2 linked regions of the Homo sapiens genome follow. The protein of the gene in region 1 interacts with the protein of each later gene in a pairwise test. Each region holds a gene or a part of one and is shown on either strand. Other genes may lie near its edges. The genes, in order: PSMG1 and PSMG2.

What was found.
Region 2: the proteins of PSMG1 (region 1) and PSMG2 interact in binary tests that used the Homo sapiens proteins (3 or more experiments, as listed by UniProt).

The regions. Positions count from the first base shown.
Region 1 is NC_000021.9:39,173,978-39,180,451, reverse strand, and holds the end of PSMG1 (proteasome assembly chaperone 1), read left to right. Parts: intron 1-15; coding exon 16-167; intron 168-465; coding exon 466-528; intron 529-1,804; coding exon 1,805-2,003; intron 2,004-2,880; coding exon 2,881-3,017; intron 3,018-4,787; coding exon 4,788-4,862; 3' UTR 4,863-5,683; downstream 5,684-6,474. UniProt on the Homo sapiens protein: Chaperone protein which promotes assembly of the 20S proteasome as part of a heterodimer with PSMG2.
Region 2 is NC_000018.10:12,719,751-12,726,240, forward strand, and holds the end of PSMG2 (proteasome assembly chaperone 2), read left to right. Parts: intron 1-759; coding exon 760-933; intron 934-4,748; coding exon 4,749-4,869; intron 4,870-5,688; coding exon 5,689-5,781; 3' UTR 5,782-5,990; downstream 5,991-6,490. UniProt on the Homo sapiens protein: Chaperone protein which promotes assembly of the 20S proteasome as part of a heterodimer with PSMG1.

The sequences.
Region 1 (6,474 bases):
AATTGTTTTTTACAGCATTTCTGTCATCATTTGTTATGAATTCAGGAGTCTGGGAGGAAGTTGGTTGTGCTAAACTCTGGAATGAATGGTGTAGAACAACAGACACTACACATCTGTCCTCCACAGAGGCTTTTTGTGTGTTTTATCATCTAAAATCCAATCCCTCGGTAGGTGGGACTTGTATGTTTGAAAAGCAGTTATTTAAGTATCACTTACATGTTATTTACTGGTAGTATACTTTAGTATGGCAAATCTTTCAGTTGCTCTGTCAGTGTGCACTTTTTCTGATACTAATCACCAGTAGTGGTTTGACTGTTAAATTTTAAAGAGAAATAAGTAGGTCAATAGTGGAGCCAGGAAAATAAGTATTACCTAAGTGTTGTCATTCACATGTTACATATATGGTGATAGTTTGTGGTGTGTATAAAACTTACTTGACAAAAAGCGTGGAACTTGACTTTTCAGGTTTTTCTCTGTCAGTGCAGTTGCTATGTTGCAGAAGATCAACAGTATCAGTGGCTGGAAAAGGTAAGAGAGAAATGAAAACCTGTGAATGGTTAGTCTACAGGAGTTTTCATTTTTTAAGGGTTCGATGTCTTTTAACTTAAACTTATGCAGTCAGATATTTATTTCTTTAAAATATTGTGGGAATTTCTTTTGGAATATAAAGAATAAAAGAACTTGCTTATTTAACGTGACCAACCAGTTGTGTTTTATACTTCTGTGTCCTCCCGTCCTCAATGCTGAGGTACAGAAGTATAAAACACAGTTGGTCCTCAGCATTGAGGATGGTAGGTCACAGAAGTATAAAACACAATTGGATTCCTCCCGCCCATCTTTCTTTGTTTACATCACTTTAGATCTTATTAAAAGGTAAAAGGGTTCTTAGAAATCTATCAAATCCAGACTCTTCTACTTATAGAAGAGGACATTTAGAACCACAGTGATTGAAGCTTACCTATAAGTGTAGTAATTCCAAAAATGAATTTCATGAGAGTTATTTTTAAGGTGTCAGTGGTAGGTGGGAGAGGGAATGAATGTCAGGTGTGTACCTGTGACTTTTTTTCTCTGGACGGCAGACCTGTAGTCGCTATTCTGGCACTCTGACTTCATTTACTCCACATCGCAGGCCCCTTAAGTAGGTAGTGCTGGCATTACGTGTTCATCTATTCTTGTGTTGCTATAAAGAATACCTGAGGCTGGGTAATTTATAAAGAACAGAGGTTTAAGTGATTGACAGTTCTGCAGGCTGTATAGGAAGCATGGTGCTGGCATCTGCTTGGCTTCTGCTGAGGCCTCAGGAGCCTCCAATCATGGTGGAAGGTGAAGGGGGAGCAGGCAGATCACATGGCGAGAGCATGAGAGAGGGGAGGAGCCAGCCTCTTTTGAACTACCAGCTCTAGCATGAACTGAGCGAGAAGTGAGAAGTCACGTATCACCAACAGGGTGGTGCTAGGCCATTCATGAGGGATCTACCCCCATATCCAGTCACCTCCCACCAAGTCCGGCCTCCAACATTGGGAATCACATTTTAACATGAGATTTGGAGGGGACAGGCATCTAAACTATATCACCTTAGTTCACTAATGAGGAGAGTGACTTGGAAAAATTGCCCACCTAGAAAGCAGAACCAAGATCAAACCCAGGTTGTGACAGCAGGTGTGTTCTGTTTCTCCAAGGCACACTCCCACCCCTGCTAGGCATGCTATTATTGTCTGTGGTGTTAGGTGAATACCTAGAGGAATGTTTCCATTCTGTAACAAAATTATATGTTTTTTTTAATTTGAAATAAATTTTATGTTAGGTTTTTGGCTCTTGTCCAAGGAAGAACATGCAGATAACTATTCTCACATGTCGACATGTTACCGATTATAAAACCTCAGAATCCACCGGCAGCCTTCCTTCTCCTTTCCTGAGAGCCCTAAAAACACAGAATTTCAAAGACTCGGCGTGTTGTCCATTGCTAGAACAACCGAATATAGTACACGACCTTCCTGCAGCAGGTGGTATTAAAATTTGTAACATTTACATTCTATCTTATTGCTTTATTGATACTACTTTTCACCATTAGAGGTCTTTTTGAGGTAGTTTATTAATGATGATTGATACCAATATATTGCTGTTAGTCCTCAATATCTGTAGTTACAAGTGCAGTATATTTAGTTTGAGTTTTCAGATTTTCCAGACACAGTTATTTGAGGAGCTCATGTTTCTTAACTGTTGGGCTTCAGACATGCTGTGTTTCTTTTTGGTCTTTGATTATTCAGAATGCAAGCCAGTGTTAAATATAAATTATTGGTGCATCAAAAGTTGATAAAGTACATTTTAATTATCAAAACAGAAGTTTTGAATATTGAATCTTGATAGTTGCTTTAATTTTTTTATTACCATCACACACATCTGCCATCATATGACAAAGAGACTGCCATTTACTTTTCAGTGGGTAATATATTACATAATTGTTATTTATTATATGAACTGTATTAAAATAGGGTTTGGTTGGGGTTTCTTTTTGCTTTCAATGTTTACTAGAATGAGAAGTGGCTAAATATTTCACTTTATGCATTTTGTACTTATTTGTTATTTATATGCTTTATTATAGTCAGTAGAATTTTAATCTTTCAGCTACTTAAATCATCTCAGCTGTATTTTCAGGAAATATAAAATTAATATTTGCAAAAGAAGAGATTATTAGGAAAATAAATTGACTTTGAAAGAAAATCTTCATTATAATTGGTTCAAAATTGCAGTAAATACCTTGATTGAAAGAGGCAGCTGAGATAACTACTTTTAACAACAGCCTTTATTATTTAAAGGTGTTTAATTTAAAAGTAACATAATAGAAAACTTACATCGTTTTTTTTTCTTGTGTATTCATAGTTCTAAGCTACTGTCAAGTATGGAAAATCCCAGCAATTCTGTACTTGTGTTATACTGATGTGATGAAATTAGACCTAATCACAGTGGAAGCTTTTAAGCCTATACTTTCTACCAGAAGCTTGAAGGGTTTGGTTAAGGTAAGGTTTTAACTCATTTAAATTAATAGCTGCATTGTTATAATCAGCTTAGTAACAAACATAAATGTATACTGTCATTTTAAACCCTAAGCAATGCTTGGAGATCCATTCTTCTCAAAGCGAAGCTTTCTAGTCTGGCAGTTTGAATTTGATTGTCATCATCTCTTCTGTATACGTCTGTAACTTGACGAATGCTTTGTTCTTGTATGATAGATTAATGCAGTGCAATTAAATCCCAAATGTCTATGTGGACAGATGGTTTTACTGTTCAATAAGCTTCTATAACTACTTTGCAAGGTTTTTTAAAAAATTTTTATTTAATTTTTGAGACGGTTATTTTTGAGTATAGTGTGGATCAAATTATTATAATATTTATTTACCCAATTTTACAGAGAACTGTATATGTGAAGATGAGAGAATTACATAATGAACCTCTTCCTTACCCTTGGTTTATACCTTTGGTCTCATTTTCTAAAAAAATTGGAACACGTACATGAAAATGTTTGCCTGTAATCTCAGGTAGTTTAGGGATTCCATTGTTTTCTCTTAAGAGACTTTTTTGGAAGTCCACAGCCTCTGGTTTAAGCATGGTTTCTTTAAAGGAAAGAGGTTGTAACAACATTGTCCCTCAGCCCGGTTTTATTCTGGAATGGCCATTAGTTTTAAGACTTTTGTGGTAAGTTGTTGGAAGTAGCTCATTTCCCAGGTCTCATAAATTAGTTTGTTACTAGATTGTCAGCTCCTTGTGGTAATGGACCACGATTTTTAATTTTGGTATCCCAAGTTTACCACATACCTGGCATGTTGAATAAAGCCATCAATAACCATTTGTTGAAGAGTACAGCTGTAAAACTCTGATTTAGTATACTGCAAGCTTATCTTGCAAATTAGCTAGAATCCAGGGTAATCTTTCTGACACATGGAGTTAATTTATTTTTAGCATCTCTTTCAAAGTATATGCTGATCGTCTTGTTTGTTTAAATAGCCAATTGCCTCATCCCACTTAACTCAGAGATGAGTTCCCATGGGCAGGGGCTGGGCTGTTTTGTTTACTGCTGTAGGACTGTGTGTAGCACACAGGTGTGTCATAAACGCTTGGACTTGTTCAGAGACTTGGAAATCATCTGTCATATGGGGCTTAAGGAAACTCAGCTTTTATGAATATACTTTCAAGGGGAAATTTAACTCAGCATTTTCATTTTTGCTTTGGAGATAATGATTAGCAGGAGGGTAAGATGGTGGTTCTGCAGGGTGCTGTTTTCTTAATGACCAATTACATCAGCCTGAGTCAGTTCGTTGTTTCTGACCTTTTAAAAGTGGTATTTTCAATAAGGTGGAATTATTTTGAGTTCTTCCTGTGTGGCAGTTTAGTTGGATTTGAAAGATGGATGAATCTTGGGTAGAAGTGTGCAGAGGGAAGCAGTGTGAGCAGAGTGGGAAAGTGTGAGGAGAGCCGTGAGGAGTGTGGTGTTGGTGGAGAGGGGAGGAAGACATCTTGTGGGGAAGGTCGGGCGGGTTAGAGCATAGACTTCCTCCAGAGGCCAGGAGACCATCGGAGGCCAGGAGATCATCGGCGAGTGTGGCAGGGAAAGGGCCTGTTGAACTGACTTTCCCACTTGCCTTTTCGTTGAGAAGGAGAGTAAAGGCCACGCCTGTCCCATGGCTGTTTTTAAGTCTCGAGTGTGGAGATTGTTGGTCGTGGAGGGAGGGGTGTTGCCTCTGCCTGAATCCCTGGGGTCTCACTGTATTCACTTTTTTCTCTCCTTTCAGAATATTCCCCAAAGCACTGAGATACTAAAGAAATTGATGACAACAAATGAGATTCAGAGTAACATTTATACATGATCTTAAACATTGTTTTGTAGTGTATATTACTTGTCCATTCCTTTAAGGGGAGCAGCCTGCACTCTTTTGTAGATTACTTTTGGGGGATATATTTTGAGAATGATGAAACGGAATAAAATTGTAAAAAATTAATTGTAGTTTTAATTCCTTATTTATGGTGGTATTATTCACAACCAAAATAAGCCAAGCATTTTCCTTTTATCCACTAGGTGGGAGTATTGTTGTATTTGAATATTTTAAGGTACTATAGTTAAATTTTTATCTTATTTATTTATTTATTTATTTTTTGAGGCTGGGTCTTGCTCTGTTGCCCAGGCTGAAGTGCAGTGTGCTATCATGGTTCACTGCATCCTCGACCTCCTGGGCTCAAGCATTTCCCCCGCCTCGGCCTCCCAAAATGCTGGGATTACAGGTGTGAGCCACTGTGCCCAACTTTAGTTAAATTTTTCAAAGCTACAGATATCAGCAGATGGTATTCATGTGGCAAAGTGTAGTTAATTAGGTGTAACTATTCATTGACCTGTTGGTGATTCTTAATATGTGGAAAGTTTCTGGATATTTTAGGAGTCCTGCAGTTTTTTTTATCTTGTGGGTAAAAATTGATGACAAAGTAACAAAATTATATATTTACTAAAAATGAAACAGAAATGTGTATGTCCTCACTTTTTAGTAATATCTGACAGATAGCCTCTTCACCCAGACTTTCCCAGGGCTCTCTTTCAAGGCTGGCTCTGCGCGTGTCAGCAGTTCTCTTACAGTCATGTGTTATCATTAGGAGTGTGAATGGAATCATGAACCCGGAGTAGCCACACAACTTCACAGGACCACAAACTGAACTGCATTCATGAAAATAAATTTTAAAATGGTGGAGTTAAATGCTTCTTATCTCTTCTGCTTTCTTTTTCACCTTTTTAGTTATTGAATCATTTACATACTATAGATTTAGAGTACTTACCCATTTATATTTTCTAGTTCCAGTTCATTTACTGTTTTTGGTAATGATTAGAAGTATGGTAAGGAGATACTGTGTTCTAACTCCTTCTTGAGTAAACTTGGTTTCCTTTACATAATCAAGAATTGGAAGTCTTGTGCATAGTATGCTTATGAATATATCCCGAAGGCAGAAATCTAAGCATTTCCCTTGTTGCAAAAAAAGTTTTCATTCATTCAGAAATGTGCCTGCAGAGCCCTGAGGTAACATCATATGACCTGGAATCTGGTCCTAGCTGGAGCTAATCCTCTTCTTGTGCTGAGGGTCAGTGTGGTAAGTAAGGAAGAGTGATCTTGGAAAAGCAGACTATGTTCAATCCCAGGCCAGCCCTTACAGGCCAGGTGACTTTGGGCAGATGCCTTGAAGCTTCCTGAGCAACAGTTTTCTCAGCTGTAAACTACAGATAATACTGGTGACAGTACTCCCTGGGTGGTTATCTACTTCCCTTGGGGTCCAGGTTTTCATCTGCTTAATGAAGGAAATTCTCTGCTTGCTTTGCTGAATTGTGAGAATAATGATATAAGAATGCTTTTGAAGAACTGTAAGGTGGTATTTCCATGTTGACACACCTTTGTGTGCCCCACCTCAAAGATGCTGACGGTGATGTGGTAAGAAAGGAGT
Region 2 (6,490 bases), on another chromosome or scaffold:
CAGTTCTCAGTTGCCCAGGCTGGAGTGCAGTGGCGCAATCTCGAGTCACTGCAACCTCTGCCTCCTGGGTTCAAGCGGTTCTCCTGCCTCAGCCTCCCGAGTACTTGGGACTACAGGCGCATGCCACCACACCCGGCTAATTTTTTGTGTTTTTAGTAGAGACAGGATATTGGCCAGGCTGGTCTCGAACTCCTGACCTCAGGTGATTTGCCTGCCTGGGCCTCCCAAAGTGCTGGGATTACAGGCATGAGCCACCACGCCCGGCCCCAAGATGTAGCATTTAGATCATTTATTTTTTATTTTTTATTCTTTTGGGGATGGAGTCTCACTCTGTCACCCAGGCTGGAGTGCAGTGGCACAGTCTTGGCTCACTGTAACTGTTTTAGATGATGTAGATCATAACTTTTATCACTTAGACACCTATAAAACCAGGATGAAAAAATACCAACAAGCCAAGAGTTACCTTTCAAAATGAGCTAATTTCCAGGACTTTCACAAAAGACATTACAGGCTTCATGGCAGAAGGGAGGAAAGCTGTGGGAAATTTTTGCAATGGGCTTGCCTAAGTGTTTCTGTCTTTTTATATTGTCTCCTAAGTAAGTAAGTAAGTAGCAAATCAGAGCAATATTTTTTACTTAAGTCTGCTGAAACTTGTGTTTTGCCTGTGCAGCAGAATATATGGAGACCAAGAGAATTTTAGCTAAAGAACCGATGTTTGCTTTAGAGTTTTTAAAAAGTTAACTATATGATTATTTCTAGTACTCCCTTCCGGTACCTACTTACACCTTCCATGCAAAAAAGTGTTCAAAATAAAATAAAGAGCCTTAACTGGGAAGAAATGGAAAAAAGCCGGTGCATTCCTGAAATAGATGATTCCGAGTTTTGTATCCGCATTCCGGGAGGAGGTATCACAAAAACACTCTATGATGAAAGGTGAGTTTGTTTGCCTGTTCATTTGTTTCCCACTTTACTTAAAAATGAAATTAATGCAGTGAGCTGAGATCGTGCCACTGCACTCTAGCCTGGGTGACAGAGCAAGACTCTGTCTCAAACAAAAAACAACAACAAAAAAAACAAAATTAAGTCAGAGAATGTATTGGATTACTTACTGAAACTTTGAGAATATATTGCTAGGCCGGGCACGGTGGCTCACACTTGTAATCCTAGCGCTTTGGAAGGCCGAGGCAGGCGGATCACGAGGTCAGATCAATCAAGACCAGGAGATCGAGACCATCCTGGCTAATATGGTAAAAACCTGTATCTACTAAAAATACAAAAAATTAGCTGGGCGTGATGGTGGGCACCTGTAGTCCCAGCTACTCGGGAGGCCGAGGCAGGAGAATGGTGTGAACCCGAGAGGCGGAGTTTGCAGTGAGCCGAGATCGCGCCACTGCACTCCAGCCTGGGAGACAGCAAGACTCCGTCTCAAAAAGAAAAAAAGAAAATATATTTACAAAACTGGTACTATTGTAGAGCTCTTGCATTTAGGGGAAAGATTTAAACTTGGTTATAGAAGAACTGGTTTCTCAAAAGCCATATTTAATGCTTTTATTTTGTGTGACTTTTTAGGGATTCTAATACTTATTCTTTGCAACCTCTACACGCGCACTTTTTTTTAATTGTGGTAAAATATACATCGTGCAAAATTTACATTTATCACACATTTTAACTATATTTAAGCGTACAATCAAGTGCCATTAATTCACAGCATCTGCATCCATCAGCACTGTCTACTTCTAGAACTTTGTCGTCATACTAAATTAAAAAATCTGTACCCATAAATAATAACTCCCAACTTTATTTCTGTAAAATTGGTGTTGATGTTCCCATTTTCATTTCTTATTTTAATAATTTGAGTCTTTTCTTTTTTTTCCTAGTCAAGCTAGCTAAAGATTTGTCAGTTTTGTTTTTCTTTGAAGAACCAGTTTTGATTTTGCTGATTATTGTTTTTCTATTCTCTATTATTCTATTATTCTCTATTATTTCTCTCTTACCTAATCTTTATTTTTTTCCGCTAGCTTTGGATTTGATTTGCTTTTTTTTCTCTTTTCCAAGGTGTAAACTTAGGTTATTAATTTAAAAGTTTTTTTCTTTTTTACTGAATGTGTTTACAGCTGTAAATTTTCCTCTTAGTGCTGTTTTCACTGCATGCCCTGGGATTTGACATGTCGTGTTTTCATTTTCACTCATCTCAGTATTTTCTCATTTCCCTTGTGTTTTTGTTCCGTGTTCCTCTCTTGTCCCCCTTGCAAACACCTACCTCCTTTCTAAGAGTCAACTTACCCTTCACCTCCTGTCTGCAATCTTGCCTTTTCCTGTCTTCTAGACAAGGAAGTTGCGTCTGCACTCCCACTGCACTCCACCTCTTCTATACTTTGTTGCACTTACTTTACCAATCAATCCTCCTAAACTTTTGCTTCTGACCAAGACAGAGTAACTGATATCAGACTTGCCCTCCTGCCATAAAAATACTGGAACCTGACAATTTATGAAACAACTGTTTTCCAGACATTGGACTACAGGCAGCACATAGCTGTCATCCCTAAGAGAAGGCAAATTTTAAGTCTACAGTTGCCTGGCTTTCTGCTTGAGATACTTTCTGGACTGCAGCACAGGGAGCGGAACCCAAGCAGAGCTGAGTGGAGGAAATCAGTTAAGACTACAGGGAGGCCGAGGCAACTGGAAATACAGGGCAGAGAATCCGAGGGCAGGGGTGCTGCTCATCAGAGTCCAGGGGTCTGTTTCCTTGGGTCTGTCTTCTTGGGTATAGGGTGAAACTATGAGGACAGGCAAAGAACAGCTTCTGGTTAGCTATAAGCTTGCCCACAAAGTTAGCGGTGATAAACAGAAAGTATTATAAAAGTTAGACCTACTCAGCATCAAACATTCAGGAAATGCGGATTTTACCCTGAAGAAACAATATTTAAAATACTCAGTTGTATCAACCAGAATAAAATAGTTCCAAATAAAAAAGTAATAATAATAGTCATCCTCTGCCTTTCTTTTTAGCAGAAGACCAGAGGGTAATATTGAAATGATTATCCCACACTGTGTGACAAACTAATAAGAGGCGCGATAAGCTGAAGAGCATACCCCTGCGCTTTCCAAGTTAGAGCCTTGAAAATGCAAGCACAGCCTCGGAGCCAGCCTTCTCCAGGCGAGAGCCTTGCCTGAGGCCATCACAGCAGACGCATTTAGGAACTGGAATTTTCTGAGCCATCAGAGCTCATAGTGGTTCCATACAAAGATTGAGAGCCCCTAAGGTGTTTGAGAACCAAGTACTGGGCTAGGGTGAGTGAGGCTAACAGTTTCTACTTTGTAGTTTTTAGAGACAGAAACTAAAGTTAGCCTGGTATCATCTGAGACTTCCGAATGTATATATCAGAGTCTCCTCGGTGCCTTTCCTTCCTTAGAACTCGGCTCACTTTTATTTCTGTAGCTCTCTTCTCTGTCAGTCTCGTGCTTTCAAGTTTTGGCATGGCATTTTTCTCATAGTTCTTGGTTTTAGGGTGTTAGGAGTAATTTTTGCATTTATTGGCAAGCAGGAAACTTTTTGCCTTGGTGTATCTCCATCTCATCACTAGCTTGAGGCGTTTATAGTATGATAGGAGACTATGTTTTGGAGTTAGAGAGACCTAACTAGATATAGTTAGATATAGAGACCTTACTAGATATAGAACTTTGGGCATGTTAACTATGTATTAAATCTTTTTTTCTTCATTTGCGACAGAGTCTTGCTCTGTCTCACGCAGTTCTCCTGCCTCAGCCTCCTGAGTACCTACAGGCACATGCCACCATGCCCAGCTAATTTTTATATTTTTAGTAGAGACGGGGTTTCACCATGTTGGCCAGGCTGGTCTCGAACTCCTGACCTCAAATGATTTGCCCACCTCGGCCTCCCAAAGTGCTGGGATTACAGGCTTGAGCCAGCGCGCCCAGCCTGTATTCAATCTCTTTAAACCTGTTACCTCATAAAAGTAGCTAATACTTCTTTCATATTTACTGTGTGGTCACTGTTTTAAGCATTTTGCCTCCACTACCTCCTTTCAGCCTCACAACAACCTGTGAAGTAGGTTCCATTATCATCCCCCTTTTATAGATGAGGAACACCCCTGGTTAAGTAACTTGCCCAACATATCTGGTAAGTTGAAGAGCTAGAATCTGAATCCTGGTGTCTGTCTTTGTTCCCGTTATTCCAAACTGATTCACTTATAAAATGGAGCTAATTATAGCTTCTTCAGGATTATTACAGGGATTGTCATAAAATTTGCAGATAATGCTTAACACATAATAACCACTCAGCGTTTTCGGAAGAAGTAGGAACTTTTATTTCCTTTAATGATTCCATTCTCTTCCACAGTTTCCCTCACTGCTTTAGATAGTAACTAGGTGTTATTTTCTTTCAGTCTCTGCTGTGGTGCTTCTGAAAATTACTGTCTTCTGAAGTAGGTTTGGGGAGTAGGTCAGAACATACCTTATCTGCTGTAGCCAAGGACAGAAAGGCTGGTTTTTCATGCAGCCATGGGGTGAGGCATGATTGTGCGTGTTCCCCAGTGGGTGTTACAGGGGCCTGCTCTCACAAGTAGAAAACTCTGTGTGGGGCGAAGGGAGATGATAAGTGATCTTATGGTGTGGCGTCTTTTCCTTTCCTAAACCAGGTAGGTTATCGTAGCTGTAAAAACAGACACACTAGAGTCAGCTCTTGTACCCTATGAAAGAATACTGATTCTTATTTTTATTTCTTGTAGCTGTTCTAAAGAAATCCAAATGGCAGTTCTGCTGAAATTTGTTTCAGAAGGGGACAACATCCCAGATGCATTAGGTCTTGTTGAGTATCTTAATGAGTGGCTTCAGATACTCAAACCACTTGTAAGTTCTATTATAGCTTAAGCCTCTTCTTTGTCTGGTTGTATTCATTAACTCGCACTTTATATACTACCTAAGTAGACCAAGTAAGTGAACGTTTGTATTAAATATAGACATATCTTTACATAAAATTTAGTTTAAGCTGAACTTTTGAAAATTAGAGGACAGTTAACCAACCTATTATTTACAGTTTTTTCATTAAAGCTGACTTTCCAAAAAGGAAAATCCTTAGTTCTTCATTGTACTTACTATTCATGTTAGATTAATTATGCCAGACATAGTCTTGCAATAATAAACAAGCCTTCTGTGGAATTCAGGAATTTTTTTAGGGAAGTAAAAAGTATTGCTATGTGAGCAATACTGTAGCTATTGAATATGTATTACAGTTGATATTTTTCTCTATTATGAAATGAGAGCATTACACCCAGGGAAGTGAGTTAGCCTTTAGGCATAACAGAACACTGAGCATAAGGCTGCTTTCTAAGATGGGTAACTAGCTTTTTAATTCATGCTTTTGCCAAGAACAAATTGATACAAATCACATAATGCTGATTTTTTTTTTAATCCCTATTCTTTTTGAATGTGATTTTCCCTAATAAACTTCATCTACAGCCTTTCTGGCATATCTTTATAATTTGGAACTTAAAGAAATTTATCTTCAGTTGACATGAAGACAAAGAAACTTTATTTTTCCTTAACAATAAAACCTGGCTATAAAAGTGCCAACCAAAAGGAACACAAAAGGAGAGTTTTATAATTCACTTTAAAAGGAGATTTGATGGTAAAGTTTAAAGATTAAAATATTTTGTTCTTCAATTACAGAGCGATGACCCCACAGTATCTGCCTCACGGTGGAAAATACCAAGTTCTTGGAGATTACTCTTTGGCAGTGGTCTTCCCCCTGCACTTTTCTGATCTAATTTCTGTTTTATACCTTATACCCAAAACACTTACTACCAACACAGCTGTTAAACATTCTATACAAAAAAATTGTATGATCTGGTATTAGGAAATTACTTTCACAGTAAATATCAAAGAAAAAAGATTAAGGGTCTCTTTGCCATGCTTTTCATCATATGCACCAAATGTAAATTTTGTACAATAAAATTTTATTTCCTAAGTAATTTTGTCTTAAATGTATTTTTTTTAATTTCAGACTCTCTATTAGCTTCCTAGTTTGTCTCTAATAAATCACCACAAACTTAGTGACTTAAAACACACCAGTTTAATTTTTTCATTAACTAATTAATTAATTTTCATTCTGTATTTTAAGTAAAATGAGACGAGGTCTTGCCATGTTGCCCAGGCTGGTCTCAAACTCCTGGGCTCAGGCAATCCTCCTGCCATGTCCTCCCAAAGTGCTGAGATTACAGGCATTACACCACTATGCCCAGCCACAAATTTGCTTTTAAATTCTGACTTCTGAGTTCTAGGAGTCAGAAATCCAACAGTGGGTCTGACGAGACTAAAATCAGGGTGATCGCAGGGCACTGCTCCTGAGGAAGGCCTTAGGGAGAATTTGTGTTCTGCTGTTTCCAGCTTCTAGAGGCTGCCATATTATTTGGCTCATGGGCCCTTCTATCTTCAAAGCCAGCAGCTTAGCATCTTCAAATCTCTCAGTTAT